Linked DNA regions of Homo sapiens. The protein of the gene in region 3 purifies or fractionates together with the protein of the main gene of each other region. This does not show direct contact. Each region holds a gene or a part of one and is shown on either strand. Other genes may lie near its edges. The genes, in order: ABCB7, MAP7, YBX3, CKAP5, FGF12 and NBEAL2.

Region 1 (5,370 bases), on a different chromosome or scaffold from region 3:
GGATATCAGGACACAGACACAAACAGTGGAAAAGACAGTGTGAAGACAGAGGTATAAGATGGCCATCTACATGCCAAGGAGAGAGACCTCAGAAGAAATCAACTCTACTGACACCTTCATCTTGGACTTCATGGGTTCCAGAACTGTGAGAAAATACATTTCTGTTGTATAAGCCACCCAATCTGTGGTGTTATGGCAAACGTAGCAGGCAAGCACACATGTACATGCACAGTTATTAAGTCACTACAGTCAGAGTAGTTGAAGAAAGAGTTCATACTTAGCAAACATTCATGCACTCAAAAATATGAATATATTACAATATTATAGTATAAGTTACTCAAGATCAGTAAAAACAATTTTATAAGTAAACCAAAATCGAAGCTTCACCTTGTCTTTTTCTAATATGCTTTGAAAAGCAGAAGTTTAAAAGTTGCTCTCCCAAAACATCAGCACCTAAGGAACTATACCCTTAGGATGCGGTTTCCCTACTTTAATATCCATCCCTCTCTAGATATTGTAAAGAAAACTTAATCAGAGGACTAATGAACATCCCAAAATACAGTGTGCAGTTAAAATTTCTACAAACAGCAAATTTTTATATCTTATTCCTCAAAGAATGTTATCCTGTAAGTCACTTTATCTTAGCAAATGATGCTCACAAATAAAGTAACTCAAAAATTTTAGGATAAAAAGTAAGTGTGCTTTGGTTATTGAACTAAAACTGACAACAATCAGTGATGCTACTCCACCACGGTACCATATGCCTAATGACAGAAATGCAACGGACAAACTTATGAGGTTGCCCTGAAGAAAGTTAGCTTTCAATTCCAAATGTATAGCAGTGGAGCAAATATTATTAATTATTATGTTAGATTTTTGCTTTGGTTTGGTTATAGAGTTTAATCATTCATTTTACATATATTTTCTGATTACCTATTACATGTAACATACCGTGCCTAGCTCTGTGGAAGATAAAAACAAAAAGATGATTGGAATATATTAGCATTTTAGGCACATAAAATCTTATCTCCTCCACAAGATACATAACTACTTGTAGGAAAAAGTGTTGTAGGAGTTCAGAGGAGGGAGAAATCAAAGTCTTATTAGCTTATAAGGAATGGTTTCAGGGAACGGACTGACCTTTGAACTAACATTTGAAAAATAGGCACCAGTTAGAGAGAGGGCATTTCAGACATAGGGTGTGGCATAAAAAAAAGAACAGACACAAAAAAGCACATGGTCCAAGGAACAGGGAACAATATAGGGTGACTGGAGGGACAGGGTATTTGTAGAGAAACAGTTTACAATATGGCTAGCAATCTAGTTAGGTGGAAATTTTTAAGGCTAAGATATAAAGCCCACTGAAGTTTATGCAGGGAAGTGATGGGATAAAAGTCATGCCTTAGGAAGAATAATCTAGATGTGCTGTATAGGATGGATTGAAAGGGCAAGTCCCTGAAAGCAGGGACAAAACCCATGCATAAAGTAATAAGGGTCTAAAACTAGGGCAGAAGTTAAGGGACTGAAAAGGACAGAAGAGGCCATTGCTACTACAAAGAAATGTTCATCTACCTAACCGGATTACTGTGAAGACCAAATGACATTAAATAAAGACTTGAAAAGTATCTTTACTCACTAGTGGCAAATCCTACAAGGGAGTCAAGAGAGCACAGATGAGGACTTCAGGGAGATGGATTTCAGGAAAGGAAGGAGAAAATCAAAACAACAAAAATATCACATTTTGCAGGTAACTATATATACCTATTAACATTACTAAAATCTTAAGTAATTAAAAGACCTAATTTTGGTCAAGACTGAGCACCAAGAAAAAAAATGCTCACAAGTAAAAACAGAATTTAAAATTATCCCAATAATGTAAAAATTATGTACATGAAAGAACAGAGATTCAAAGGAAAAAGGAAAAATTATTTAACATGTGGGATTGTAGATATCTGTCTTGACGTTTTTATTAGATGTGGTTTTGTATAATTAAAATGGGGACAATGTAAAGCATAAGAATCGTATACAGAATGGGCAATTTTATCTCTTATTATATACCTTATTTTACAATATGGGAAAGAACATACTTTTCTTTGAAAAAGCAAAATCTTTAAGATAACACTGACAACAATACAGCAATAAATGATATTAATTTTATAACAATTGTATAACAATAATTAAATGATCAATTATGCATTTATCATTTAATCAAAATTTTGATGTAAGTTTCCACTCTATTTCTACCCCGCTGCCCAGTGACAAGTGCTCTTTATCTTGCCACTGGCTACTCAGGAACACCATTAGAAACCCACCAGCCAGCAATATTGTATTAATCAGGGATTACTGACTGGAAGAGGGGATAGGTTTCTGATTCCCCTGAAATTGCATGCAAAATGAAGCACATACGTATGTATATTTTTCTAGGGAGAAGGTCTATGGCTTTGATCAGATTCTCAAAGGGCCTCGTGTTCTAAAAGAAAGTTTAGAAACATGAAATTTTCTTCCTCTTCCTAATAATCTTAATAACTAGTTAAAACCAATGTGTCAATGACTTAGAGAATGTTATTTATTCAACTATATCTGAAAAAAGAATCCCCTGAATTCCTCTTCTCAAGTCCCAGTGCCACTTTCCATTCCTTACCATATACAGCCCATGTAAGGTATATCTTTATTTACAACTTTTATAGCATTACTGTTATTCTTCACCACCCCTTAGAATCTATTTCTACCATCCCAGATGATTTCGGAACCTAGCTTACTTTTTCCTCCACACTACTTCCATCCTCCCAACACTACCAAATACTAAGCTCATAATTAAATTACATTTTTCTATTCCTACTCTTAGATATACAAATATGACAAGAACAATACAAATTTGTCCCATTAAAAATTCATGTGAACATAAACTTACCCTATGTTGCTCCTGAATACTACACCAGTAGTAAACTAGGATCACAAAGTAGAGGTACTATATAAAAAGGGCTGGTCCTAAAGGATTACAGTAAAGAAACAAGAGAGTTGCAAGAAACCTTAGAGATCTGGTAGTCAAATATTACTAGTTTACAGGATCTGATGTCCAAAAGAACAAGTTATGTGTCCAAGATAATTAACAGTACAAATAGAGCTCAGGCGGTCAAGTGTCCTGGTCCAGTGTTCATCCCACAATACCAAGTTATGCCCTTTGCACACCAGTTATTTCATTATTTTTAACATTTAGAAATAAAAATCTTTTAAGTCATCTGTATTTTCTTTACAGTAAGGCTTACTCCTACCTCAAGACCTCTTAATAGTATTCAATATCATTCCTTCCAAGCTTACTGTGTGAGAACAATGTAGGGGACAATTAAAAGCCGTGTTGAAATCAAGATAGACTGTCACTCACTCATATGAATAATTGGTTTGGTATGTCTTGCTCTTTTCAAAACCAAGCTGGCTGCTTCCTAACAGCTCGTATTTTTCTAATGACAGCAAATTATTGTTTAATAATTTTAAAAGTCTTTATTGGTCTCCTAATAAAAGGACTATGCTTTTAACATTTGTGTCCCCCTAAAATTCCTATATTGAAACTTAATCACCAATGTGATGGTATTAAAAGGTGGAGTCATTGGGAGGTGATTAGGACTTGGAGAGTAGAGCTCTCATAAACAGGATTAGTTCCCTTATAAGAGGGGCCAAAGAGCTGCCTTGTCTCTTCTACCACATGAGGACACAGCTAAAAGGCACCGCCTATGAACCTCAAGACCTCACCAGACACTAAATCTGTCAGCACCTTGAACTGTGAGAAATAAATTGCTCTTGCTTATAAGTCATGTAGTTTATGGTATTTTGTTATACCAGCCCAAACAGACTAAGATAGACTATTAGTCTAAGAAATTATTTCTCATATGCACATTAAATCCCTCTTCCTGCAAATGAAGTCCACATCTTTGTATCATAACCTAATGTTCCAGTTAAGTTTAGGCATCACTGAACTACAAATAACCCCTTCAGGTCCTTTTTTTTTTTTCTTTTTTTTGAGAGGAAGTCTCGCTCTGTCGCCCAGGCTGGAGTACAGTGGCGCGATCTCGGCTCACTGCAACCTCCGCCTCCAGGGTTCAAGCAATTCTCCTGTCTCAGTCTCCTGAGTAGCTGTAGTCACAGGTGCACGTGACCATGCCCAGCTGCTTTTTGTATTTTTAGTATGGACGGGGTTTCACCATATTGGTCAGGCTGGTCTCGAGCTCTTGACCTCAGGTGATCCACCTGCCTTGGCCTCCTAAAGTGTTAGGATTACAGGCATGAGCCACTGGGCCAGGCCGCTTCAGGTACTTTAAATGTCACTGAATCACCTCTCACCCTTTTCAGTTCCATGATCTATAATCCACTTAAAGACACCCTTATTTCTCTTGTAAGTTCTGTTTTTGTTGTTGTTGTTTGTTTGTTTGCTTGTTTTTGAGACGGAGTCTTGCTCTGTCGCCCAGGCTGGAGTGCACTGGCGCGATCTTAGCTCACTGCAAGCTCCGCCTCCCGGGTTCACGCCATTCTCCTGCCTCAGCCTCCCGAATAGCTGGGACTACAGGAGCCCGCCACCATGCCCGGCTAATTTTTTTTGTATTTTTAGTACAGACGAGGTTTCACCATGTTAGCCAGGATGAATAAGTTCTGTTTTCTATTCTTTTAGTATATTTTGGGACGACTGTTGAATAATCACTGTAGTTTCTTCATAGGCATCTTATATTGTTAAATTTAAATATGAACTAGAACCTCTAAAATATAGAATAGGAGGATTATTTCCCTAGTGTTGTTATTATATTCCCACTTCAGTTAATATGAAAGCCAGGAGTAAAGTATTTTAATTTTTATCTACTCTGCTAACTCTTAGCAGCCAATGGTGGAAGAGTAGGAAGGTGGAACTTGCTACTGGGAGAAATTAAAGCTCCCATTCTTGGTCCATGAGGTCAGACCAACAAATGAAAACAAAACAGTACCTATCCAAAAGAACTACCATATTCCACAACCCAGGTCTAGGGCATATACTGGGTGAGAAATACTTACAATGAATTCCAGTAATCACATACATGTGGGACTGTGTGTGTGTGTGTGTGCGTGTGTGTGTGTGTATATATATATATAAAATATATATGTGTGTGTGTATATACACATAAAAGTTCATGAAACAATACTTCACTTAAGATGTAAAAAGCACTGCTATTTTCTTTATATTCTACTGAATTTCATCTAAAAAAGTGCTAATCCAACCCACTAACATTATTTCATAACACTGCTCTAAGGTTCCTTTCAGCTCTAAAATATTATGCTATATACTAATGATCGTCCTAAAAGTATGAATTCAGTAATTATTTTGTAATCTTAATCACAAGTCACAAATTT
Region 2 (5,370 bases), on a different chromosome or scaffold from region 3:
GGCATATTTAACTGATGAAATAGATTATTTAAAATGGTCTGTTATTTTGGAAAAATACAATATGCACTTTTTTTTTTTTTTTTGAGATGGAGTCTTGCCCTGTCACGCAGGCTGGAGTGCCGTGTGGCAAGCTCTCAGTTCACTGTAGCCTCTGCCTCCTGGGCGCAAGCTGCCTCAGTCTCCCAGGTAGCTGGGATTACAGGCGCCCGCCACCACGCCCAGCTAATTTTTACATTTTTAGTAAAGACAGGGTTTCACCATGTTGGCCAGGCTGGTCTCGAACTCCTGACTTCGGTGATCTACCTGCCGTGGCCTCCCAAAGTGCTGGGATTACAGGCATGAGCCACCCGGCCCAGCAGTGCTGCTTTGTCTTAACTGGGGTTATTCAAGAAAGTTGGAACTGCCTTAAGCTACATGAAGTGGAAGTAAGTGTTTTTTGGTGACGGCTAAAACACCGAGAGAGATTTCTTTGCAGGAGATTGTTATCACTGAGGGGGCTACTAGTTTATGTGGCAAGGGTAGAACACGCGTTTTCTGACGGCCAGGGCTAGTCTCTGGGTCTTAGAGGTGCAAGTTCGCGTCCCGGGCCTCTCTACTAAGACGCAGCTACCTTCTTTCTCTCCAGGCGCTCTTGCTCTTCTCTCTGGAAATGCTTCTCTCGTTCCTGCCGGACCCTCTCTGCTTCTTCACGAACGCGAGCTTCTTCTTCTTTCTGAAAACAGAAGGTCGGCGTCTGCCTCTGACAAACAGGCGGGCTGCCCGGGTCTCCCAGGGGGTGCCCAGAGGTGGGGGCGAGGTGGCGGATGGAGAAGGTGTGGAAAGCGGGAGCACCAGCAGTCCAGTCCGCACCCTCCTCTGCTGGGCTGGGGCGTCTCCCTGCGGGACTGGGGCCGGGGCCAGGGTGGGGTGCGGCCGCACCTGCCTCTGGGCGCGCTCTGCCTCCTCCCGCTCGCGCAGCGCCCGCTCCTCCGCCTGCCGCTGCAGCTGCTCCTCCTTCTCCCGGGCCTGCTCGGCTTCCAGCCTGCGCGACTCCTCCTCACGGCGAGTCGTCCTCTCTTCAGCCACACGTTGAGCCAATTCCTCTCTCTTTTGTCTGGAAAAAGACAGAACAAAACCAAAACCAAAGACACCTGAGGAGAAATCTTTGAAGAGAGGCCTCCGTCGGTGGTTCTGTAGGGCGGTTCCTTTAGGCGTCCAGTAGAAAAATCCCCACTGGATGCCTTCACCACTGCTAAGGGACAAAGCGCGAAGCCACCCTTAGACTTCCTCCCGCCTTGCCAGCTGCATTGCTGTCCGTGCTAAATAGAAGCAACGTGTAACCACCAATATCTTGGGGAGAGCTGGCTTTTTGGAAGGAATTTAACTATTTTTTAAAGGCTCTGACTTGTTTAATTCAAATAATGTGACTTCTTAGTAATGAATTTGAAGCACCCCAGCCAAAGGGAATCTTTGTAAATAAATAAGGGTCACAGTGTTCTGTCACAGGACAGGAGGAAGACAGCCATGTAAGCTCCCTGTTGGAGCCAAGGGAAAGGCATGGCCAAGATGGCGGTCCAGCGAGTGCATGAGATCCTTCCCCAGGGTACAGTTGTGTTCGTTTGAAGAACAATTATATTGACATTCGTCTTATTAGGCCCAGAAGATGACCAATTAAACAAACTGTTTCTGGAATACTGCCTGGCAGGCAATCATGGGGCATGTAAAGATCCCACCTGGCTACCCTCCGAGAGGAGTTTTATCTGGAAAGGAGAAAACATGAACCCTTATTATGCAGCCTTAATGTGATAATTACAAAGATAAAACGGAAACCTGGAGATTGGAGATGTGTTAAGTAAAAAAGCAGACTGTACAATTGTACCTCTGCTGTGGTTATAATTATGTAAATATGTATATGTATGTATATATACACACACACTCCCATACTGTTGAGAGACTAGAAAGGACCACCCAAAATGTACACTATTACTGAAAATTGGTATGATTATGGATTTTTTTTTTCTTTAAAGCTTTCTCCATCAATGTTGTTGCACTGTCATTAAAATAAGAAAACATGGCTGGGCATGGTGGCTCATGTCTGCAATCTCAACACTTTGGGAGGTTCAGGTGGGAGGATCCCTTGAGCCCAAGAGTTTGAGACCAGCCTGGGCAATATAGTGAGACCCCATTTCTATTTAAAAAAAAGAAGAAGATGTGATTTAAAAAACAAACTGCTTAGTAGTCATAGGAAAATTAGGTAAGAGTAATCCTGAAAGAACTAATCCATTCACTTTCATCAGTATTATCACCTCCTCCCTCTCAGAGGGGTGATGAGTTAATCCAAAGTATCACTGACACCATGGTGTGGAGCAATGTCTCCCATTTACCTTTCAAGCTCTTCCTGCTCCCTCCTCTCCCTTTCTTCCTTTTCTCTCTGCTCTCGGGCCAGCCGCCTCTTCTCAGCTAGAAGCCTTGTGGCCTCCTCTGGGTCGGTGGTGCCTGCAGAAGTCTTAACAGAAGCACTGGCATTCACAGTGGATGACGGGGCTGAGACCATGGCTGGGGTGGGGACCGGGGCTGGAGCTGGGGCCGAGGCTGGAGCTGGGGCCGAGGCTGGAGCTGGGGCCATGGCTGGAGCAGCTGCACAAATAGGTACAAGGAGAAAACCAGTTGGAAACAAAATCCAAAGAACAAAACCAAAACTAGCATTCCCCACATCCAAGGCCTAGAATTTACCATTATGAAAGAAAAGGGAATGTTTATTACTGTGTGTTCTCACGGTTTCACTATGTTCTATCTGTAACCAAGCAACAGATAAAAAAAATCAGTATGTGTAAGTAAGACATCCAACAAAGCTGACACTCTGTCACCAAGTCTTATTTTTATACCAGTTAAATCAGTTAACATATATTGAATGTGTACAAAGCCTCATGTTAGAGTCTGTGGGGAGTTATACACTGAGCAAAAAGAAGATGAGATCATCCATTTGTCTTTTATTGCATTTGAAAATTCCTACTCTTCGGTAACCATTCATTACTAGAGCAGCATCCTCAGCATCCATGCCATGAGTCCAGATTCAGCCTGGGAAGATGATACCCTATGAAGAGGACCCTTTTGTCTCCCCAGAGCTGTCTCTAGGTCTGAGATGGGAGGAGCTCGGGGCCTCTTTGGGAGCTGGTGCTCATTCTGCTTATATATCCCAAGCTGCCAAGATGCAAGATGGGAGCAGAAGTTCTCTGGCCTTACTCGGATTTAGGAAGATGACCTAGAGAGCTGGTGCCCCAGAAGCCCCACACTGATGCTCACAATTCTGCACCACAGTGAGCAAGGCACCAGCAAGTGCAAGCTCTGGCCCCTGGCTGCTCCAGCCCCTCCTTTTGAGAGTCACATTTCTACTTCTGCTTCCACAGACTTTTCTCGGCCATCATGATGCTCTAGCCCTTCTTTCCTTCCTTTTTCCATGGAAACAAATACTGGACTCCTCCTTTTTCTAACATTTTAACCTGTTTTGAATCATCTCTTCTTTCTTTGCCCCACCCTCTATCTTCAAATTAAGTCTTTTGAATGAAGACAATTCTCAACTAGAAATATTGAATTCACAGCTCCAGGTGGTTTTAAATTTCTAAATAGCATCTGGCTAGCCTGGCAGAGGTGAGAACCAGTGGGCCTTCTGGAAAAAAATTCTGACTTCTATCAAGCACACAGGCTATACCAGGGGTCCTTAAACTCCAGTATGCACAGGAATAGCATTGCCAGATTTAACTGGCCACCCTGTGTTCTATCTGGCAACCATGTTTAGGAATCAACTGACAAGCTTAGTATCTTTCAGAGTCCTCATATCCACCACTACATATTCTGACTTAGTAAGTCTGAGGTAAAAACCAAGGGTCTGTATGTCAAAACATTATAGATGTGGTGGTTTAAAAATATTTCCAGTTTTCCTCAGCTGCTGCCAAGCTGCACTCGGTCCCTCTGAGGAATGTAGGGCCACATTGAAGTGGAACCCTCACTTCATCTGGCAACTAGCACCTTGCCTGGCAGTGCCAGCCCCACACTTGCTCACACCATGGCCTCTGTTTCTGAGCTCGCCTGCATTCTGCATAAGGCTCGGCCCTCATTCTGCATGAGGGTGAGGTGACCGTCAAGGAGGATAAGATCAATGCCCTCATTAAAGCAGCTGGTGTAAATGTTGAACCTTTTTGGACTGGCTTGTTTGCAAAAGCCTTGGCCAATGTTGACATGGGGAGCCTCATCTGCAATGGAGGAGCTCGTGGACCTGCACCAGCAGAAGGTCCTGCCCCCTCCACCAATGCTGTTCCAGCTGAGGAGAAGAAATAGAAGCAAAGAAAAGAGAGTCTGAGGAGTCCAAGGAGGATATGGGCTTTGGTCTTTTTGACTAAACCTCTTTTGTAACAAGTTCAATAAAAAGCTGAACTCTTAAAAAAAATTCTTTGAAAACTCTCTCTTCAAAAGTTGGAGACTATGTTTCTCCTTGAGTGTGAGTTCCACCTAGTGACTTGCTTCTACTTAACAGAATGTGGCAGAAACATTGGTGTGCGACTTCTGAGACTGGGTCATAAAATACATTGTACATTCCTCCTCATTCTCTCTTCCAGGTCACTCACTCTGGCAGAAGCCAGCAGAGCAAGCAGATAGATGAGGACATTCAGCAATAATATGGAGCGGTCCATGTGTGGAGAAGCTGAGGCCACCCGCCCCCGGCCTTGTATGTAAGCCACCTTTCAGATCTGGTTGAGTCTTGAGATGACTGGAGCTCTAGTGGACAGCTTGACTGCAATCTCATGAGCGGTCCTGAGCAGGGACCACCCAGCTGTGCTGCTGCCAAATTCCTGACCCAAGAATCCATGTGATATGATAAATGTTTGTTGTTGTTTCATGCTGCTAATTCATTATGCAGCAATAGATAATGAATACAACAGGTGATTTTGATGCAGGTGCTCTGAACACATTTTGTGAAATGGACTCAGCCAATAAAAGCACTGAGAACCTACACCTGAATTCACGTGTTTGTGGCTCTATCAATAGGCTTTTGGATGTATGATTTGAGATTTACATTTCTACTTCTGCTTCCACAGATTTTTTTCATGGCTATTATGATGTTCTATGACCCTCCTTTCCTTTCTTTCTTTTTCCATGGAAGCAAACACTGGACTCCTCCTTTCTCTACCATTTTCACCTGTCTTGAATCATCTCCTCTTTCTTGCCCCACCCTCTATCTTCAAATTAAGTCTTAAGTAGAAAACTTTGGAATGAAGACAGTTTTCAACTAGAGATATTGAACTTCAAGCTCCAGGTGGTTTTACATTTCTAAGTAGCATCTGGTTACCCTGGCAGAGGTGAAAACCAGTGGGTCTTCTGGAAAAAATTCTGACT
Region 3 (5,370 bases):
TTAATATGGGTCATTCTTTCAGAGAATGTTAACTGGATTCAAATATGTGGTCTGTGTTATGTACAAGGCATACCCTATATATATGGATCTTGAGCAAAATGTTTTTATATTTGTTAAGTGTCAGGTTTCATGTGATAAAACCACTTTTAGAATGCTAAAGTCTGACATGATTAAAGACTATCTGGCAACATCCGCCCTGACTGGTTGGATTTACCTCTTTGCCATCTTGTGAAGGAGCGTTAGGAGGACGCGGGCGACGCCGGTAATTGTAGGGACGCCGGTATCCACGGCGAACAGACGGCTGGTTTGGACCACTGGTGGCTTGCTGATTTTCTTTATCTTCAGCCTCTCCAACTGCTGGGGCAGGTCGTGGGCGAGGAGGTCCCCTGCTGTAGGGAACACAGAAGAAAATAGAACAGGTGCCAACAGGACAGGGCTTCTCCAGAAAATAAGGTTTTATTTATTTTTAAAAATTAAAAAGTCAAGTGATCAGGGCCAGGCATGATGGCTCACCCCTGTAATCCCAGCACTTCAGGAGGCTGAGGCAGGCGGATCACTTGAGGTCAGGAGTTTGAGACCAGCCTGGCCAACATGGTGAAACTCCATCTCTACTAAAAATACAAAAATTAGCCGGGCGTGGTGGCACATGCCTGTAATCCCAGCTACCTGGGAGGCTGAGGCATAAGAATTGCTTGAATCCATGAGGCAGAGGTTGCAGCAACCCGAGATTGGCACACTCCAGCCTGGGTGACAGAGGGAGACTCCATCTCAAAATTAAAAAAAAAAAAAAGTCAAGTGATGAGTACTTATTGCTAGAATTATTCGCAGGTCAATGCAACAAATGGAATAGAGGTTTCACGAAAAAAAAATCTTAATTTTCCATCATTTTCCCCTTTCATTTGAATACATATTTGTAAGGAACATACATATACTGAACACATACTCTGTTCCTATCAGGCCCTTTGATAAGCACTAAGAATAGGAAAATTAAAAAAGAAAAGAAGAGTAGTCTGGTATCTGCCTTCCATGAACAGAATTTAGCAGAGACTAAGGGAATTAAACATGAGAAGAAACATTATTATGTGCCAGAGCCTGTGCTAGTCGGTTTTAAAATTAAATATTTAATTTGAATGGTAATTCTGTGGATGAGATTTATAACAAGAAAACCAAGAGGTTTACATGATAAAGTATACGGCTGAGCTATATAAAAGTGCTGCTTTTATAGGTTAAAAAAGGTCAAATATGACTTTCCAAGATCACATATCCAGGGACTGACAAAGCTGAGCCTCACACGCTACTGAATCCTTTTTGTTCCAGTAAGACATTTCTATGCCGTCTCTTTTATTTTCAAAGTCCCTAGTACTTAATCATTAGTGATTATGCCTAAAGCTGGAGGGAACCTTGTGAAGAAAAAGGATACGATCCTTTTACAATTATATTGGTGGAATCCTTTCCCAATATAATATACTTTTTATCCTTCAATAAAGCCATACTGACAAATTTCAAGGTAGCATAAACATCATTCAGGAAGAAGTTGTAGCTTTTCCACTTACCACAAAGGGTAAGATAAAAGAATGGGCAGGCTTATATTATAAAATGCTTCAAAGGGATCTTATGGAAGGAGTCTAGCCTAATTCAGTCTTCCAAAGGAATAAAGCACAAATAGAATAACCCAGCGTTCACTAATATTAACCTCAATGGTGGTAATAATATCTAATACATAGTGAGGCCTTTACTTTATCAGGTACCACACTAATTATCTTAGCTGCATTAGTACCTTTAATCCCCAACTATAGAATATCTCTTTGTTTTCAGACAGGGTCTCACTCTGTTGCGCAGGCTGGAATGCAGTCCAAGAACATACATCTAATGAACTGTAGAGTAGGAAGATAAATTCAGGCGATTTGATCATACCCTGATTTAACCCCTCTACTGGACTGCCTCAGTGATTAACAGTCACTATCCCAAATATCCTCTGACACTCAATTCTTCCTCCATCTGCAGCATTACCACAGAATTGCCCACCAATAATTTATCTGATTTATTTTGATAAAAATTAAGTATTAATTTACATCTTATTATAATTCCAGAATACAAAATGACGCTTTGGCGCAGAGATAACTAAAAATTCTAGTATTAAGTAGGTGGGAAATGTCACACCACCACCTGAAAACTCTGGCATGTAGTCAAAGCATTCACATCTTCTAGATATATAATAAATCCACAAAACGGAACCACACAGTCCTCATTCTACCATTGTGCACACAAGTCCTTTAACTGGCCATTAGTGGAAAATGCGACATACCTACGGTACCTTGGGCGGTAAGTTGGATTTCGATGAACCGGTCCCTGAAGTTGTGCTCCCTCTGGGACTCCATCCTTCATCTCTCCAATCTCACCAGCCTGGAGAGGCAATGAGAGCTGACAGTGAGTGTCACAGCACAGGGGATAAGATACAGTGCATACAGCTATGTTCAGAATTTTTTTTAGAAGTAAAAAACAAAATGCTTCATTACAAAATTAGGCACTCTCAGTTGCAACACAAACTATTTATGAGTAAATCTTCGTGAACGACTGAAAAGGAAGACAAACCTAGTCTGACTAGAATACTCATTTGCTTAGTCCCAGAGCACCTAACTTTATTTTCGCCTATCAATTTAACATTTTGAAATCGGATACATTTCATTCATCTCTTTAAATAAAATACTCTTTTATTTTTCTTTACAACAAACTTACTTTAAGCCAGTGGAATAAAATTAACTTATTGTACAACTTCCAGGGGAAAGAAAGAACAACTTAAAAAAACAAAAAAACCCACCAACAATGTCTGCAATTCTTGACCATACAGCCATAACTCAACTTTCTTTTCTTTTCTCAAAACATCCCTTCCTCCCCCTAAGAGCCAAATACTGTCCTTCATTATTTCATCAAGAAAGAGAAACAGTCAGAAGACAATTTCCACGTTCTCATTAGCAAATCTACCCAGCTCCCTGTATTTACATTAGAATTTTCTTCTCTCCCATTACCCTGGGTAAGTGGTCCAAGTTCATATCTGAAACCAACAGCCTCTCTATTCTCATCAACTAGACACAGCATGTTAACGCTATCCCTTCACTATGTTTTCACCTTTTCTATCATTTCCATCCAAGCATATATACCCAGTGAAATAGCACCCATCCTTTTCAATTTTTTAAAATTTTGAAATAAGCACAAAGTTACAGAAAAGTTAAATGTAATTCTCAGATCCCATTCAAGTTTCACCATTTATCCCAATGATGCCCTTTATAGCAAAAACACCGTTTAGAATTATGCACTAAAGTAAGTTATATCTTTTTGTTTGGAGCAGTTTTTTTTAATTTATTTATTTGAGATGGAGTCTCACTCTGTCGCCAGGCTGGAGTGCAGTGGCGCGATCTCAGCTCACTGCAACCTCTGCCTCCCTGGTTCAAGCGATTCTCCTGCCTCAGCCTCGCAAGTAGCTGGGACTACAGGCATGTGCCACCACTCCCAGCTAATGTTTTGTATTTTTAGTACAGACGGGGTTTCATCATGTTGGCCAGGATGGTCTCAATCTCTTGACCTCGTGATCTACCCACCTCAGACTTCCAAAGTGCTGGGATTACAGGCATGAGCCACCACGTTGGTTTTCATGACCCTGATACTTCTTTAAAGATTACAAACCAGTTATTTTGTAAAATATCCCTCAACTTGGGTTATTGGTGTTCACTAATGATTAGATATTGTTTTTGCATCCCCAGGGGGATGTCACAAAAGTGACACTGCATTCTCCTCACTGCATCCTGTCAGGTGGCATATAGTTTCAATTTGTGCCATTACTGATAATGTTCACTTTGATAAGTGGTTAAGGTGGTATCTGCCACCAGAGTCCTCCACTGTAAGTTGACTCTTTCCTTCTTTGTAATTAATGAGTACTTTGTGAGGAAGTACTTACAAAGTGCATAAATATACTATTCGTTATCAAATTTTTCAATATATTGGTTTATTTATTTATATTTGTATGGACTCATGGTTTTCTATTTTTTTCAATGAGTTGTAATCTGTTACTATCATTACTGGCCAATGGGAACCCCTTCAAGCTGGCTCATATCCTATTGATGTGTTTCCAACATTCTTTGAGTACTTCTTCGCTTTCTGGCACAACAAGATGTTCCAGGCTCATATTATACTTTCTCTGTCCCAGCTCTGAAATCAGCCATTTCTCCAAAGGGAATTCTTTTTGTTTGAGAATGTTATTTAAAAACAAAAAATTGGGGGACAGGTATGCTCAATGCTGTTACTAAGATATCACGGCTTTCAGGACCTTTCAGTAGACAGAACCATGGAACACACACACACAATGTTACACATATATGTGTGTCTATGTATGTGTGTATATATATATGTGGGTTTATGGCAAACACACGTGCCTACCTTGATCTGCCCATTTAATGGCTTTAGAAGTTGTTGGTGAGGTAACGGGTAAGGGAGAGACCAGGGGTAACTCTGCATTGTAAAAAGCAAATCAAATCAAGCAAAAATCTTGCTCTGATCCCTTATCTTCTTCCAGCTACTACCCCATTTCTTTACAGACATACATACTAAAGAAAAACCAAACACCATGACCACCACTACAGAAACCTCAATGGGGAATATGTCTCCTCTTCCCGCCCTTTGCTGTTTCTTAAGTTCATTCTATTTAAACTTTTGTCTTCACCAAACCACTGACCTCCAAGTTACCAAATCTAATAATCAATTCTCAGCTTAATCTCTACTTATCAACAAGCATTTAACACATTTCTTTCTTGAAATACATTCTCCTTGGCTGCTCCTTCTCACTGTCCTTTGCTAGACAATCCTCATCTTCCTAATCTTTAATCGTTGGTGTGTCCCAGAACTTGATCCTAGGACCCTATTTCCACCTACACTCACTTTATAGTTAATATCATCCTGCCCCTACGGCTTTAAACATCCTGTTTTATAACTCCAAATCAGCCAGGAGCGGTGGCTCACGCCTGTAATCCCAGCACTTTGGGAGGCCAAGGCAGGTGGATCACAAAGTCAGGAGATTGAGACCATCCTGGCTAACACAGTGAAACCTCGTTTCTACTAAAAATACAAAAAATTAGCCAGGCGTGGTGGCGGGTGCCTGTAGTCCCAGCTACTCAGGAGGCTGAGGCAGGAGAATGGCATGAACCCAGGAGATGGAGCTTGCAGTGAGCCGAGATCGTGTCACTGCACTCCAGCCTGGGTGACAGAGTGAGACTCCATCTCAAAAAATAAATAAATAAATAAATAAATAAATAATTCCAAATAATTATTTGCAGTTCCATTTCTCCCCTTCAGACTCCCATTCACGCCTTTCCTGGGACC
Region 4 (4,603 bases), on a different chromosome or scaffold from region 3:
ACCCTTTCAGAGCACATTCTTCACGGTTACTGTTGGCAGAGGTCACAGGTGTGGGATGGAGCATGGCTCCGTCTTGAGAAGTCTCATCCATGAGCTCAGGGAAAGAATGAAGATCAACGTCTGCCTCAGGCACAGGATAGTGGAGTGGAGCAGGGAAACCCTGTGGCTACAGTACCTGGCCTAGGATCTTCTAACGTGGTTTTCCACGGGAAGGGACCTGAGATAGGGATCTTTAGCACCCTCCTCATAACGTTTTTTTTTTTTTTTCTCATTTTTCAACACATCAGAAAACAAACAGGACAGAGTTCCTTGGCCTCATTCTTTGGTTCTGGTTGACTGAAAGGCAGTGAGCTTGCAGGATTTGGCAGCCCAGGGCATCAACTCGATCAAGGGGGAAGGGATTCAGAATTACTTGTGACATGCAGGACCTGCTTTTTAAACAAGAACACACATTCTCATAAGTCTGTTTTCTTCCGACATAGCGGTCAGTGTTGTAAGCTCTAGGGACTTGGGTTTTTCCAGTCAGCTGTGCTAATTCCAGACAGGAGTACAGCCACTCTTTTTTTTCCTCTTCTTTTGTTTCCCTCCTCTTTTTTGAGACAAGGTCTTGCTCTGTTGCCCAGGCTGGAGTGTAGTGGAGTGATCACGGCTCACTGCAGCCTTGACCTCCTGGGCTCAGGTGATCCTCCCACCTCAGCCTCCCAAGTAGCTGGGACTACAGGCTTGAGCCACTATACCCAGCTAATTTTTGTATTTTTTTGGTAGAGCCATGTTGCCCATGTTGGTCTTGAACTCCTGGGCTCAAGTGATTCACCCACCTTAGCCTCCCAAAATGCTACGGTTGTATGAGTGAGCCACCAGGCCCAGCCTTTGTAGCCATTCTTTCTAAATATGTCTTTCCACTATAGCAGCAAACGCCTCCATCATCCCTTCAGTGAACAAATACCCACTCCCATGTTCCCACTATAAAGGAGAGACAAGTTTAATTTCAGGAGGCTCCGGGGCCACCTGAAAACGATGACTGGAACCTTTACAGGATTAATCTTCCATCAATCTTTCATTTCTTGGACATCAATTGAATTGAAGGTGGGCTACAATAGGAAAGTTCCTTTGAACTTTATAACTGCCCAAAATCTCCTCCTGAATCCAGAACCTTTTCATCCTGAAGAGTTTTTCTGACTGTGGAGGGAGGTCCTGTGGAATTTATTCCAGAGGTGAATACTCAGCTCACTTTCTCATCCTTACTCTGACTGAATGTGAAGCAACTGTTAGCCTGGACCAAAAGAGACTCATACAACCAAGCAGCAAACCACTAAGATTTCCCAAACTCCATTAGTCAAATGAACACAAATCTAGTTGTAGTGTGAGAACCACTGAAGCCCAGCCAATCTCTGGGCGCAATCTTGTGTGCCTTTGGTCAGCAAAGTGGTAGGATGCCCAAGAGCTTCTTGAAACGACTGGTGATAATTGGAGGGAAATCATGACCAAAATCTCAAAACAAGGAAGGATGAGATTTTTCTGCTCCCTAGGAGCTGTTTGTGGAGAGCAGGGAAGGAGAGTTCCTTCCATTCCAAAGGAATAAAAGACAGCTCCAAGTCTGTGAGCCAAGAAAAAGGGAAGCTCTGTAAGCAGTAATTAACCTTTCTCTAACTGGCTGAATACCCAGCTGGTACCAAAAGTTAAAAAATTGCTGCCCAACACTCCATGATATGGAGCATCTTGGGAGTCAGGTATAGTTAATGCAAACTTTATTTATAAAAGACTCTTAAATTAGTTGTATCATGCCATGCATTCATACAGAATACAGTGACCCTTCAGGGCGACAGAGAAGAGCTCACAAACTGAAAGGAAAACTATTAAAGAGTTTCTAATATTAACTATTAAAAAGCTAGGAAAGATTAGGACAATTTTACAAATGAGCAATTAAAAAGAAAAGAAAAGGATCTGGGAACTAGACTGAGCAGAGAGGGGGCAGCTGTTTACAAGTCTGTACACTAAACTCATCCACGGACAGTCTTCTAGAGCAGCAGGACGCTGACAGAGAGAAGCAGAGTATGTACAAATACTTGTGCCACAATGACTCCTCCCCCTAGCTCCACGGCATGATACATACAACCAGTTTGTATACACTAGGCCTGCTGAGGCCATTTTAAACTATGAGGACTTCTAGTTTAGTAAACTAAAGCTGCAGGGTGCCGGGGGAGTGGGGCAGCTTCATTTGCGACTGCTCTTTATTCTCTCCAGTCTTTTTTTCAAGTCGTCTATGTTAGCTGTGGAGGAGGAGGAGGTCACAGTTCCTGAAGAGTGAGTCTGGTTAGAATCCAGGTCTGAATGCTGGTGCTGCTCCCGTGACTCCCGGAGCTGAGAGAGTTTGCTGTGGAGCATGTCTGTGGAAGAGGCGACAGTAGGAACTGCTGGTTTGGAGAGCAAAGAGGTCAAAGGAGGTCGGTCATCTTGCTATTGAGAGAAGGAGAGAGATTGTCTAAGGTCAGGTCAAGCAGGTCAAGATGCAGCTCCAGAACTACAGCAAGACTAAGCCACTTCTCTGTGGGCCAGCCTGCCTCGGACCTGCTTGTGACTACCCTCCCTGAACTGCACAGAAGAAAAGGAGCAGTACCTTTGTGTTGTCCAGACCACATCGCTGTCGGAGGATCTTTAGCCTTTCCAAGTAGACAGATGGCCCCACTTCTTCCCCATTTGTGTTACCTATGGAGGACACTGTGCTTGTGGGCGTGGGCACACATGTGACTTCCATCTGAGGGGAGATGCCTAGAGGGGAAAAAGTAGAAAGAATATTCAGATATCCACATATCCCCCTTCTAAAGTGCCTTGGTTAATCTCCCACCAAAAAGAACAATTAAGAATTTCCTATACTTGAAAACGACAAATTCCACAAGAATCTACCTGGAGTTGGTGATAAGGGTGCTCTGAAATATACAATATAAGCTTCTTGAGAATGCAAAAAACTGATATAGAAAGGCAGAATGTAAATTGGGTCATCCATCTGCATCCTGGGTTATGCAGGGGATTGTACTCCAGTAATCCCAGGGCTGACTTGGGCAATCCAAAAAGCTGAAGCTACTCCTAAGCATACTGTAATTGCCCAACTGAAAAACCCGAGGACCTTAAATGTTTGGAAGAATTAGATTAAGTTTGGACCAATGTCACATAGGAGAAACTCATTTGAACCTGTGAAGGAAGCAAGGTGTCCAAGGCTATGGTGTATTCATGGGGAAGAGAAGGTGTCCAACAATTATCTAAAGAGGGCATAGAACTGGAGTGTCTGTAACCCTACCACTAAGATCAATATTCTGGCAGGAGAGAGGAAAACCAAAACAACAAAAAATCCATCACACTTCCTAAATTTCTGAGAATGAACAATGATACAATGCGGGCCTTTAAAATATTTCACTTGGTATCAATGCAAATGCATTCCACAGGCCCCAAAGGTAAGGTACTGGGAGGAAACACTGCCTTATGGTAAATAGAAAAGTAGAAAGGTTACTCCAGGGAAAAAGGACTCCTTTAATGTAAAGATGAGGAGAATCCTCTGAGGGGGTGAAAAATGAATGAAGAATTATGTAAAAGCCAGCAATATGAGATGTCTGAATACTCTAAGGCACAAAATCAATTTAATAATCAGTGGGAATACATGCTTGGGTTGCAAATGTGCTGTTTAGGCCAAAATTATCACACGTTGAACATCCCCAAAAAGGGCTTTGGAAACAAGGATAGGATGCCTGCCCTGATCAAACCATGGTATGTTTACATGTGGCATACTGTTGGACATTCTGCACACCACACTTTAACTCCTAAGAGGTCTTTTTCATTAAAGACCAGCCTGGGCAACAAAAAGAGACCCTGGCTGGGCACAGTGGCTCATGCCTGTAATCCAAGCACTTTGGGAGACCAAGACAGGTGGATCACTTAGAGGTCAGGGGTTCAAGACCAACCTGGCCAACATGGTGAAACCCTCTTAAAAAAAATTCAAAAATTAGCTGGGGGTGGTGGCACACACCTATAATCCCAGCTACTCGGGAGGCCAAGACATGAGAATCACTTGAACCCAGGAGGCAGAAGCTGCAGTGAGCCGAGATCGCACCACTGTACTCCAGCCTGGGTGACAGAGTGAGAACCTATCTCAAAAAAACCTCAAAAAATAAAAACACTTGTAAAGTCTTGGAAAGGCGTAATTTAAGGTGTCAAAAACAAAAAAGAACTCCTATTTAAGAGAACAAAATTTAACTGAAGCTTCAGCCCAGCAAGATACAGGCTGAGAGTGGATATGATCAGGGTCTGAAAAACACAAAGGGACATGCTTTGACAGGCAAACACATTCTCAAATGTAAGAGTAGGTGAATGTCACTAAACTCGGAAAGAACTAAGCATAGAACTGATGAGAGGGCACTTTTGCAGTTGGGTCTGTCTTGTCTTGGTTTAAGGCTCATGATAGCTATTTTCTATAACTGAAACCTCCTAAGTCTTCTGTTTGTCTCTAGATCCTGTGAGCAGTAATTCTCGAATAGGGACTTTTTCACTGTGGGGGCAGTAACATTTCAGCTTAAACTTAGTTACTGCATTCATTTATATCATTTAACAAATA
Region 5 (5,370 bases), on a different chromosome or scaffold from region 3:
CCACTGAGCTGCCCAGGTAAACAGAACAGTTATTCAATGTGAGGGTTAGAAAAAGAAGCTGCAACCCAATGCTTAATTAAGCCCCTAGGGGTGGAAGCCAACTTAAGGCACATAAGAGCAGTGGGTTCTTTCTTGAACCCACCTGATAACAGGCAGGAAGGCCCAGTGATTCCTCAAGTCTGTATCTTATTGGCCCAGGGCTTGAGTGAGACTAAGCCTGCAGAGATTGGGTATTCTGAAGGTTAATAAAATCTGTACATACACAGTGGGACTAGTTTTTCAGTAACAAAGGAAGGTTGATTGGCTTATAAGACTATACTAAAGTATGCCTTGGGTGTTAAGTAGTGGTTAAGCTCATAGACTCTGAAGCCAGTCTGCAACTTACTAGCTGTGTGACCTGGGCAAATTACTTAACATCTCTATGCTTGACTTTTCTCATCCCTGAAATAGGGATGACAATAGTGCCTGCCTCATTGGGTTTTTATGAGGCTTAAGTGAGTCAATATATGTAAAGTACAGTGCCTAAACATAGTAAAAGCTGCAAAAGCATTATTTCAAAAGACTCAGTTATCTTTCCAAATGTCCTTTCAATGTTTGACATGAATAAAGCATGAAAGCATGAAGAATAAAGAGCTTTTTTAAGTTTAGCTGGATCTGTTTAAGTTTATAACTGAACCCAACACCTATTACAGTTTTTTTCCCCATAAAGCATAGAAAGAAAATCTGCTTTATGGGAAAAAAACTGTAATAAAATATGTGAAAAAGGATAAAACTCCACTTATAATTCAATCGTCATTATCCAAATATTGTCACTTTTTGCATAATACAATCTACTATTTGCCAATGACCAAATTTTACATTATAATTAGTGCATATATCCACATGTACTATTTTTATAATTACCATTATGTCATAAACACTTCTGATTATAACCCATGTTCATAAACATGTTAATGGCTGTTAGATATTTCCCTTTCTTTTATTCTTCGCATAATCAAGAAATTCAGTTTATTAACCATGAAACCCTTAGACCTTGGATAGCTTTCATCTGGTGGTAGAAAATGCTTCTTCTATCTAAAATGATCAGTAGCCAATCAAACATTGGAAGACATAGTTATTGGTTTTTAAATTGTTTGAAGGCAATGAAGGATTGAGTGCAATTGTTTTTTAGTAATATATTACTAATGATTGAGAACTAAAGAAAATCAGACTTCCTATCAATAATGTCAGTAAAACACTCAGCCCTTGGACTGTTTGTCATTATTCTGTTAGTCTTTCTTTTTTTTTTTTTTTTTTTTTTTTAGCAAGAAGGTGCTGGTTAGGGCTGGCAGAGAGAAGAAAACCATATCCACCAAATCAACTTCACATATGACTGTTGTATAAATAAACTCATCTTAATTGTAAAGAGGACACATATGAGGGTGAAGAAAAGACGTTATAAAAACATAATGTACAATCTGCTAAGCAAAAATGCCATCAAGTTCGCCAAAAGAGATAGGAGAGAACAAGCAGCTGATCATAAATCTTTAAACAGAATGTATCCACTGTAGTTCCTATATAAACACTTCACAAATGCTGGTTCTTTCAATCCCAGAAGTGAAAAGAATCTTGCCTCTAATCCACTCTTGTTTTGCAGATGAAGAACAAGGCCATAGAAAGAAAGCCACGAGCTCAAACTGAAGATGGGGCGGGAATTAGGATTCAAATCCAGGTCTCCGGATCCCCAAGACAGCGTCTTTTCCACAAGGCCACTGCAGCCATCCATCAATTTAGACATGAACCTGTTACCTATGTGGTCACAATCATGCCATATACAAACTTTAGCCAAGTAGCACTTTTTTCCTCTTAGTGCTTTCTCACTCAGAATCAAATTAATTCCTCAATAAAGTTATAAATCCAACAACTTCAGTTGCACAATTCACAGCATTAAAAAGCTAGCTCAAACCCACACTGAGTCCTTAAAATTTGATGTGGTAATTATGATCACCCTGTTTATTTTCTGTAGAAGTTAAGCCTAAAGAGGATCAAGAAAGAATACAAACAAGCTTAAAATAACAATTTCTTTGTAACAAGAAAATAAAAATCAATAATGGGCAAACCGAGTTAAAAAAAAAAAAGAGAGAGAGGTTTAGTACACTGAGGTTCATCCATGGAATAGAAGAACGAGAACCTGATCCCAGATCTTCTAGCATTTAATAGATTAGATTAGAATAATCTAAGTAGTCTGTTAGATTAATACATTAGAATATTAGTTATATTTCATTGGAACATGCACCATGTGTATTTTATGCCTCAGTGTATCACCAGAGTATACAATGTCATAATTCCACCAGTGTGCATACTACAGTTAGAAAAGCTCAGCCTTAGAACAGCTAACAAACAGCAGGTTCTAAGGAAATACTGCTTATTGAATCAATCAACCAATGGTCTCATTTTAAAAGACTGGCACTGATTGGTCTGTGCTATTGCTTTAGTTGTCTCCTTCATGTTTACGTTATTGTTATTGAGGGTCTTGCTATATTTGCATAATCGTTTGTTTTTTATGCTGATGCAAATCAAAGCCCATAGTAAAAAAGTACTCATTTCATCTCATGTTAAGTTATTTGTAGGCTTGAAAATAAAGAGTGATTTACATGAAAACCTTTATCTTGATACATAGCAAATATTTCTCTTTTAAATCCCAGAAGAAAGAAGTAAACCAAATTCAATTTTAAATAGTGCTAGAAATGTTGAACATGTTTTGAAATGAAGGAAAAGCCTTTAGATAAAATGTGTAAATAGTCTAATTTTAAATTTTCCAGATTTAAACAATTAGAATGATCATATAATAAATCTTATATAATAGTCTTGTTTGTAGAGTATCTAACCCCAATTTATTATAATATGTGAAAGAGACTAAGGGCAAAAAAAAAAAAAAAAAAGAAAAACAAGAAAAACAACCCAACACATTTTGAAGCAGGAAGCATATCTAGATTTTTCAGTTCCCAAGTATCTGAAAAGAAATTTCCCAAATTACCTGTGTTGAGGTTTGTTCAATCTGTTAGAGTGCTATCAGTACTGGAGGATTCGAGGAAAACCTGTTTCACGTGGGTGATAATTGTAGAAGTGAATGAGGTAGGGAGAGATTGGCATTGCTGCCTCTTCCTGCCTGCTTGGTAAAGGACTCTTTGGTGCATTTAGTTATCTTCTGAACAGCCTCTGAAAGTTTCTGGATTCTTTTTCTGCAGTCTAGTCCCTTTGGGTTGCTTCTCAGGCTAATGGCCAATCCACAAACAAGAAAGAAACAAAAACCTAACCACAGAATGGCAGCATGCCTTTACTTCTATCACGTAGTTTAAAGTCCCACTTTCAATTATGTGTGCTTTTTCAATCATTAGTAATGGGGCTTGTTTCAGGTAAAAAGCCAGGCAGAGTATGCGCTAAAGAAAAAAGAAAAGATCTGTGAAGGGGCAACAGGTGTCCTTTGGGACTTCTGCCTAGGTGCCATCAGCAGCATCGCAGCAGTTAAATACCACGGCCTCCCTGGGTGGGAGTCTCACATTCCCAAAGACAAGGAGACAGAGACTATTTCAAAAAGTAACTGGAGAGATGAGAAAGCTAAAATTAGAACTATTGACATAGATCCTTAAAAAATCCTACCGTGCTCTGCATGCAAGGATGCTAATAAGGAGATGAGGAAGATGATGCTGGGGAAAATGGCATGTCATCTTAGCCTCAAACTCTTGCCATCTATTTTGCATATCTATTTTCAATCCCAAGTCTGTAGTACAGAAATGAAATCTCTCTTCTACACACACTCTCTTAACACTAAAGAGGGTGGTAATAAAAGACAAGGCCCAGGCAGTAGAAGTCCTATAGTGCTCCTGATAAAGAACACATGTATGTGTTATAGTTTCCTAGTAACCATCTTGGAGCTTATCGATGGATTCATAATTGAGGACATACATCATCACCTGAGTGTTTCTTAAATATCTGACTTGCAGGTATTACAGGATGTCTGGTGGTTCTGAGATGTACCCCGATTAAGACCATTGTTAGTGGCCAGAATTTACACAGTTTATGTTTTAAACCCATCCAAGGTGTAATACTTGACTCAATATATCTCCATCCCCAAACCCATAAGATGTAGAGACAAATTCAGGTGTTGGAGACGTTACTATTAAAACTGTAGAATAAGCACACAAGAAATCCCTTTTGGTAAAGTGAAGTTTTTGTGGGAGTTAATGAAGGGTGATTTATTGAGTGTCGTGCAGTATACTTGCTGCTAAAACTACAAAAATGGCAGAGGACCAATTTCTACCATCCAGGATCTCACAGTCTAGTGTAAAGAGAGATACAGCTAAAAATGATGAAAGTCAGATTATAATTCTAAAGAGTTCTAAATACTTTATTAGCATGAGTTTTATTTCATAATCATGATATTATGGTACAGCACTTGGGATGGGTATAAGAATTTTTATTTTGCAGAGAAACAGAGGTAAGATGAGTTGCCTAAGTCATTTAGTCTTTATGATCCTTTGTTTTGTTATCTATAAAATAAAGTTAAAATGCCAAATCACAGGGTTTTAAGGGAGATTGTATATATTAAAAGCCTTTTGAAAAAGTACAAAGTGTTTCACGAACGTTATTTATGGGTGTAAATATGTGACAAATCAGGAAACCCAATATTAAGAGATGCAATAAACCATTATTGGTCAATCAGTAGCACAAAACACCAAACCTAATAAGGTTGGTACTTCAAAAACTTAAAAGCACAAAAGAAAAAGGATAAGGGAATGGCAAGTAGGTTGGCCTCCCCCAGACCTATTACTGAGGGTAACAAGCCTCATAATAACCTAAAGCAAGAAACAGGTTAGGCAGGTAGCTAGTCAGGTGGAATAGCTTTTATAGTAGATACATAGCTTGAGTTCAAATGTTCTCCCACACAATAATTTTGTTTAAATAAACCAAAGGGGAAACAAAAGGCAGGAATTATTGCTGTGGAATGTTAAGTGCCTCTTTGGAGCTCATTAATCACTGTAAGACTTTATATTCTAGCCTCCCGGATAACCTACTAGAACTCTGAAAGATGAATGGAGAAGACACATAAAATGCTAGAAATCAACAGCTCTTGATCCTGTTCATATATCCCTACATTGTAAGCTTTTAGAGGGCAAGTCAATAAACTATTTATACCTCTGTCCCCCACATTTAATAATGTGCCTGGAACAATGTGGCAACTCGGTATTTTAAATTAAATGAACTGGACCCCCTTTGATATTTAAGAATCTTGAGACCCAAAGAGGAAAAGATTTGTCCAAATTTACACCATGACAGGTGGAGTAAGAAACTGTATTTCCTACACTCAGTGACTATACATCATGATTTTAC
Region 6 (5,370 bases), on a different chromosome or scaffold from region 3:
AGAAAGGCTGTGGGAGGAGTAGGATTTCATCTTGAGGACGTCAGGTTGACATCAAGGGATATGATGGGAGGAGAAATGAAATCCAGTTTGTTTTAATAACAGCACCCAGGCTATGGGAAAATAAAGTCGAGGAGCTCCCTAGGGGTGCCTCCCCTCCTGGAGTTGCTGCCCCAACTCTAGATCCAGGCCCACAGCTCCATGGGGGCATCACTGAGACATTTAATATCCCAATAGGTCACCACCTTTTCACAGCCCTGCCCACCTCTGTCCAGGCCATATCCCACCCTGAGCCTATCTAAAGTCCTGGCCAGTCTCCCTCCAATGAGAGGAGAGAGGGGACCCAGGGGTGGAGGGTCACCAGGGAGAACAGGTTCACAGGACCACCTGTGAACAGGCAGCCACAGCTGTCCTGGGCACCAGATCCTCCAGCAGCCAGGGAACAGGAGGTGGAGATACCTCCTGTGTCTCCGGGATGGGTGGAGATGCGTGGAGGCTATGGGGACAAAGGGATTGGACCAGAGAGTTTTAAGATCACAGTAGGGTACAAGTGGCTAGAAGGATCCAGGAGATGGCGGGGAAAGAGGATGAGAAATCTGGGTAGGCAGGTTGACCCCACCCCTCCACCTGATGGGAGGCCCTCGCTCCAGCCCAAGATGTCTTCTCTTGTCTCTGTCCCTAAACTCTTGCTTGGTCTTTGGTTCTCCCAGTCCTGCATGCAGCCACCACCAAGTGGTTCCTGTGTATGGCAGGATCAAGGAACGACAGGAAGGGGCCTAGGTTTGGGGGTGGAGCCAAGTGGGGGCAGGGGCGGGGCCTGACCTTGGAAGAAGGCGCTGAATTCCTGGGGCAAAGCAGCAGGAGGGAACTTGTATTTGCTCTTCTCCTTGGAGCTGATGACTTCCCTGGGGGCAGTGAGGCCAAGTACATCAGCCCGGCTCTCACCACTCCTGGCCGTCACCCCTCCTTGGGCCCAGCGCGGCCATCCTCTCCCCACCCTCCTCTGGGTTCCCTTCCTGTGGGCTGGGTCTCACCCACTGCGCTGGCGCCGCCAGGTTTGGTAAGGGTCAAAGAGGCCCTCGCAGAGAAGCAGAGCATGTAGGGCCACATTCTCCAACTGCGTGCCTCGGCCCTGGGGTGGTGGGCATCCTTTCAGCTGTAGGTGTGGGGAGAGAGGGTTAGCCCCGCCATGGCTACCGCCTGCCTCCCTGCATACACCCTCTGCCCCCCAAGGTAGAGGCCACTTCACCTCCGCCACCAACTTGGTCAACAGTGCCAGCACTCGGGGCACTAGCACTTGGCCCCGGCCTGCCTCTATGTTCTCCAGGTTCCTGGGGGAGTCAATGATGAGAGAGGTCACAATAATACACCATGCCCCTCCTTGTCCCCTCTCCCTCTGGCCCACAGTTCTAGGCCCCTGCTTGTAGAGTGGACAACAGAGACACCTGCAGAGAATGATGAAGAGCTTGAGCAGCAGGAGGGCTTGCTCCAGGTCAGCCTGGTGCAGCTGTTCGGCCAGCACATGCAGCTCATCCAGTGGTAGCAGCGGGACCTCTGCACCTGCCTCCTCTGGCCTGCAAGGAAAGGGGAGACACGGGTGCTGAGGACCCCTCAATCTCCCTGCTCTGTCCCTGCCCTCAGTGCAGATCCAGCCTCACCTTCGTGGCTCCAGAGAGGACAGTGAGATGCTCTTCTTGAAGGCACCTACAAAGGCCTTCAGCCACTGCTGCAGGTAACCCAGGTCCTTCTGTAGGCAGAACAGGGGAACAGTGGTGGGGGGCAGGAGGGATGCAGTAAACAGGGCAGGGACAAGGGGATGTAGACAGAGGCGAAGAATGAATGGAGGTGGACAGAGGGCATGGACAAGGGGTTAAAGGCAGAGTGGAGGGTGTGGAGAAGGGGAGTGGGGGACGGGGGAGGGAGGGCAGGACATTGGAAGGTCAGCATCAGAGAGTTAGGTACATACTGACCACTTTTCCAGGCACCCCACTGCTTCTCTCAGCCTCCCAGTTTCTGCTCCCACCTCCCTAATGCCTGCAGTCCTAGGCAGGTCTGACACAGCCAGGGGAGGGGCGTAAGTGGGGTGTGGCTGTGGCCCACACTGGTGCTAGGGCTGGAGAAGGTGTCCCACACAGCAGCCACCCCCTACCAAGAGCCTTGGGCTGGGTCCTCATCTGCCATCTTCACCCAGCCCAGCAGCCACCACCTTCAGTAGCCTTCTTTAACTGTGGATCCCAGGACACACGTGTACCATTAGACAGGCAGACCCAGACATGCGCACATCCTCATGTGCGGCCCTGCCTTGCCCCGGGAACCTCCACCCACCCTTGCTGGTTACCTGGACCCCAGGCCCCAGAGCTGGTTCCATGGGCAAGAGGGGCAGTGGCTAAGCCCAGGTCTAGGCGCTGCCAGGAAAACTTTGGTGTGAACGGGAAATGTCTCCTCCCGCCCCGGGGCTGGGGCAGGAAGCGCAGAGTCACGGTGGGGGAGGGGGACCGCTTCCTCCCGGCAGACCGCAGGGATGTGGGGGGGCCGGGGCACCCTGGGCCCCAGTGAGAGAGGCTGCAAGCGACCTGGCCTGCACAGAGGGTGGGACCTGTTACAGAGGGGTGGAGTCACCTGTCCTGGGTGGGGCTTGTGGGCCAAGACTAGTTTTACAAGCATGAGGTTGGCGCCTGGAAGAGCTCTTATCCAGGTGAGGGTTCTGATCCTGCTGCTGCAGTACCCTTCACTTAAGGCACCCACAGCTCCCTGACCTGCGCGCAAGGCCTCAGGCCACAGGGGTCGATGTAGAAGACTCAGCCATACCTTTGTCCCGCCCCGCCGCCCGCCATGTCCTGGCCACCTCATCTGAACTCTGCAGTTCTCTTCGCTCAGGAACACAGCTGATAAATCCTAGCCTAGCCCGTATCTGCTCTAATCTCTAAGCCCCTCCCAGGGGCCAGGGGTGGGTTGTGGCTTATACAGGAGCTCCTCCAGGCTGGCCCCATATGGAGCTCCTAACCAGCTGAGTCCAAAAGGCAGCCTTCTTTCCTAGAGTCAGAGAGGTGGACAGGGGGAGCTAGAGTGGAAAAGGATGAAGAGGCAAGGGACACATCACAGTCAGCACTCAGCAGGCCTCAGGCTGCTCCCCAGGGGCCATGGGCCTCATACCCAAGGACCTCCAGAACTATCTTTGGATGGATGGCTAATTTTTGCAGCCTATGGGCCCAGACCACGGGCAAGGCCTGAATGGCCCCAGGGCAAGAGGCCTGACTGCAGCAGACCTGAGCCAGATCCCCAAAAAACCTAGGCAGAGCAGCCGTCCACCCTGTGATTGGGGAACTCCCTGGTACAGTTTAGTGCAGATCTGAAGCCCAGACAACTCAGAGAGGTGCCAGGGCCACCATGGTGCAGACCCACACAACCATGACATTTTGTCTGTCAGTTACATTTATTGACCTCTCCACCCTCTCCTGCTGGCAGCCTCCTCCCGAACAATCAGCAAGGAGCCCAAAATACCCAGATCCTGAGACAGCAGAGGTGGCCAGGGGCCCTGGACCATTTCTTCTGAACCTCTCCCATTGCAGATGGGGAAACAGGAGGCCCCACAGGGGATGCCTTATCTACTACTTTGTCTTCAGTGTACCTTTGAGGATGCTAAAAGCCAGACCTTAGTTCTAGGCCAGGACCACTCATGATTGCTAGCAAGCCAGCCCATGAGGACCATGCGGGCCCCGATCCTTGCCTCAGTGGCCCCACAGAGACCCCTAGCTGCCTTCAAAAATGTCCCAATACTGTCTTCCTCTCTTCTGCCCCTCAGTCAAGCTAGTCACTCAAAATGTGAGTCTTCCTGCCAGCTGCAGCTCTACTGAGCACCTGAAAGCCCAAATTTGACCGTGTCTAACCCCTCCCCATAAAGGCTCAACTGCTGAGCAGCATTCCAGGCTGCTGGTCCAACCAGAACCTGCTTCTCCAGCTTCCACCTCTCCCCCTCTGTGGTTCACATCCTCCTATCCAGGCCTTTTCCCACCCTATGCCCCACTGCCTTGTGTGACTTGGGCTTTTGGTACTTGAGCAGGAACCTCCCACCCTCCTGGTGGCCATCACCTTGATCAGCCTTCCCAGCACAGGGGTGGGTCCCTCAATCTCTACATACTCCTAGAGTATGTAGATAGTACTTTCTGTCCCTAGAACCACACCCTTGGCCTGTCCAGTCCTGTAAACTTTCAGCAGATTGGGCTGAGCTGGGTTCAGGGCTGGGACAATCAAGACAGCCTTCAGGGGCTCTGAAAGGGGATGACGAGGTCTCCAAAGCACAGTATTAGGCAGGGGTGGGGTGGCTGCCTGTCCTGCCTCCCTGGGTCTCACTGTTTCTCCCTGGAAGACCTCAGGCCAACTCTGACCTAGGCCCCATGGCTTGAGACTGCAATGTGTCGGGGTACGGGAGTCCCTCAGGGAGCCAGGGTCAGAGGGCAGAGAATGGCAGGGGACGAGAGCATGGTGGCAGTGCTGCATGTGAGGGTCCAGGGCCTGGGAGGAGTGGCCATGATGCTCAGGCTTCCCATGCCCCTCTCAGAGCTTCTGCCTTGGTCGGTTGTGCCAGCTCTGAGCAGGAACACGGGTCAGGGACAGTCCAGCCCCTTGCCCCAACCTAACTGGGTCAGGGCCCCAACCCTGTCCCCCACTGAAGGCAGGTCGGGAGCAGCCACACCTGCCAAGCCCTCTCCAGGGTCCATAGGTAAGTGATGCCCAGGTCCTGCAGCAGGGGAGAAGGTTGTGGGAATGTGGAAGGCCGGTGTCCCTGGGAAGAGGGGGTCTCATGTGCACCACCACAGAGACCCCAACTTATGCCCAACTAGCTGTGAGGGCACTTGAGAGTGCTGGGGGTGAGGGGCTCCCGAGGGCTGCTTAGGCTCAAACAGTCCCTGGGTGGGCATGGAACTGCCACTCCTCTGGAATTCTGAAGTAACCTGGAGGGCTGAGGGCTGGTGGTTGTGACATTGGTGGGGAGTACAGGGAGTACACCTTGTTTGCCAAGCTGACAGGGATCATTGAGCTGCCTGACACCATGCTGCTCCCAGACCCTGCCTGACGTACCCCAAGGCCATTGCACAATGGGCCTCGAGTAGACATCTGTCACCATCACGGCTTGATCAGCCAGTCACATGCCCTATCACAAGCTCACATCTGAGGCCCTGTAGGGTGGTGCCCACCTCACCTGCAGCCTCCATACCCCAAACCCGCTGGATGCCTGGGCCCAAGGGCGTGAATCACTGTCTCTACCCCCACAGGTCTGCCTGTGCTTTGCTCTTGTTTGCTCTGCTGGAATGCCCCCATCAGGGGCATCAGCACCCTTTGTAAGACCCATTCCTGTCTGGTGCCTCTCACCAA

What was found.
Region 1: the proteins of YBX3 (region 3) and ABCB7 fractionate together in Homo sapiens (co-fractionation; one large-scale study listed by BioGRID). This does not show direct contact.
Region 2: the proteins of YBX3 (region 3) and MAP7 fractionate together in Homo sapiens (co-fractionation; one large-scale study listed by BioGRID). This does not show direct contact.
Region 4: the proteins of YBX3 (region 3) and CKAP5 fractionate together in Homo sapiens (co-fractionation; one large-scale study listed by BioGRID). This does not show direct contact.
Region 5: the proteins of YBX3 (region 3) and FGF12 purify together in Homo sapiens (pull-down; one large-scale study listed by IntAct). This does not show direct contact.
Region 6: the proteins of YBX3 (region 3) and NBEAL2 purify together in Homo sapiens (tandem affinity purification; one large-scale study listed by IntAct). This does not show direct contact.

Annotation. Positions count from the first base shown.
Region 1 is NC_000023.11:75,148,663-75,154,032, forward strand, and holds part of ABCB7 (iron-sulfur clusters transporter ABCB7, mitochondrial), read right to left. Parts: intron 1-5,370. UniProt on the Homo sapiens protein: Exports glutathione-coordinated iron-sulfur clusters such as [2Fe-2S]-(GS)4 cluster from the mitochondria to the cytosol in an ATP-dependent manner allowing the assembly of the cytosolic iron-sulfur (Fe/S) cluster-containing proteins and participates in iron homeostasis.
Region 2 is NC_000006.12:136,360,087-136,365,456, forward strand, and holds part of MAP7 (ensconsin), read right to left. Parts: intron 4,413-5,370; exon of another isoform or gene 3,914-4,412; intron 2,617-3,913; coding exon 2,364-2,616; intron 1,094-2,363; coding exon 919-1,093; coding exon of another isoform or gene 850-918; intron 713-849; coding exon 611-712; intron 1-610. UniProt on the Homo sapiens protein: Microtubule-stabilizing protein that may play an important role during reorganization of microtubules during polarization and differentiation of epithelial cells. Associates with microtubules in a dynamic manner.
Region 3 is NC_000012.12:10,701,746-10,707,115, forward strand, and holds part of YBX3 (Y-box-binding protein 3), read right to left. Parts: intron 2,404-5,370; coding exon 2,306-2,403; intron 390-2,305; coding exon 215-389; intron 1-214. UniProt on the Homo sapiens protein: Binds to the GM-CSF promoter. Seems to act as a repressor. Also binds to full-length mRNA and to short RNA sequences containing the consensus site 5'-UCCAUCA-3'. May have a role in translation repression.
Region 4 is NC_000011.10:46,741,809-46,746,411, forward strand, and holds the end of CKAP5 (cytoskeleton-associated protein 5), read right to left. Parts: intron 2,770-4,603; coding exon 2,618-2,769; intron 2,458-2,617; coding exon 2,215-2,457; 3' UTR 1,240-2,214; downstream 1-1,239. UniProt on the Homo sapiens protein: Binds to the plus end of microtubules and regulates microtubule dynamics and microtubule organization. Acts as a processive microtubule polymerase. Promotes cytoplasmic microtubule nucleation and elongation. Plays a major role in organizing spindle poles.
Region 5 is NC_000003.12:192,716,884-192,722,253, forward strand, and holds part of FGF12 (fibroblast growth factor 12), read right to left. Parts: intron 1-5,370. UniProt on the Homo sapiens protein: Involved in nervous system development and function. Involved in the positive regulation of voltage-gated sodium channel activity. Promotes neuronal excitability by elevating the voltage dependence of neuronal sodium channel SCN8A fast inactivation.
Region 6 is NC_000003.12:46,985,043-46,990,412, reverse strand, and holds part of NBEAL2 (neurobeachin-like protein 2), read right to left. Parts: intron 2,424-5,370; exon of another isoform or gene 2,366-2,423; coding exon of another isoform or gene 2,336-2,365; intron 2,052-2,335; exon of another isoform or gene 1,968-2,051; intron 1,745-1,967; coding exon 1,656-1,744; intron 1,572-1,655; coding exon 1,443-1,571; intron 1,329-1,442; coding exon 1,247-1,328; intron 1,154-1,246; coding exon 1,032-1,153; intron 903-1,031; coding exon 820-902; intron 745-819; exon of another isoform or gene 1-744. UniProt on the Homo sapiens protein: Probably involved in thrombopoiesis. Plays a role in the development or secretion of alpha-granules, that contain several growth factors important for platelet biogenesis.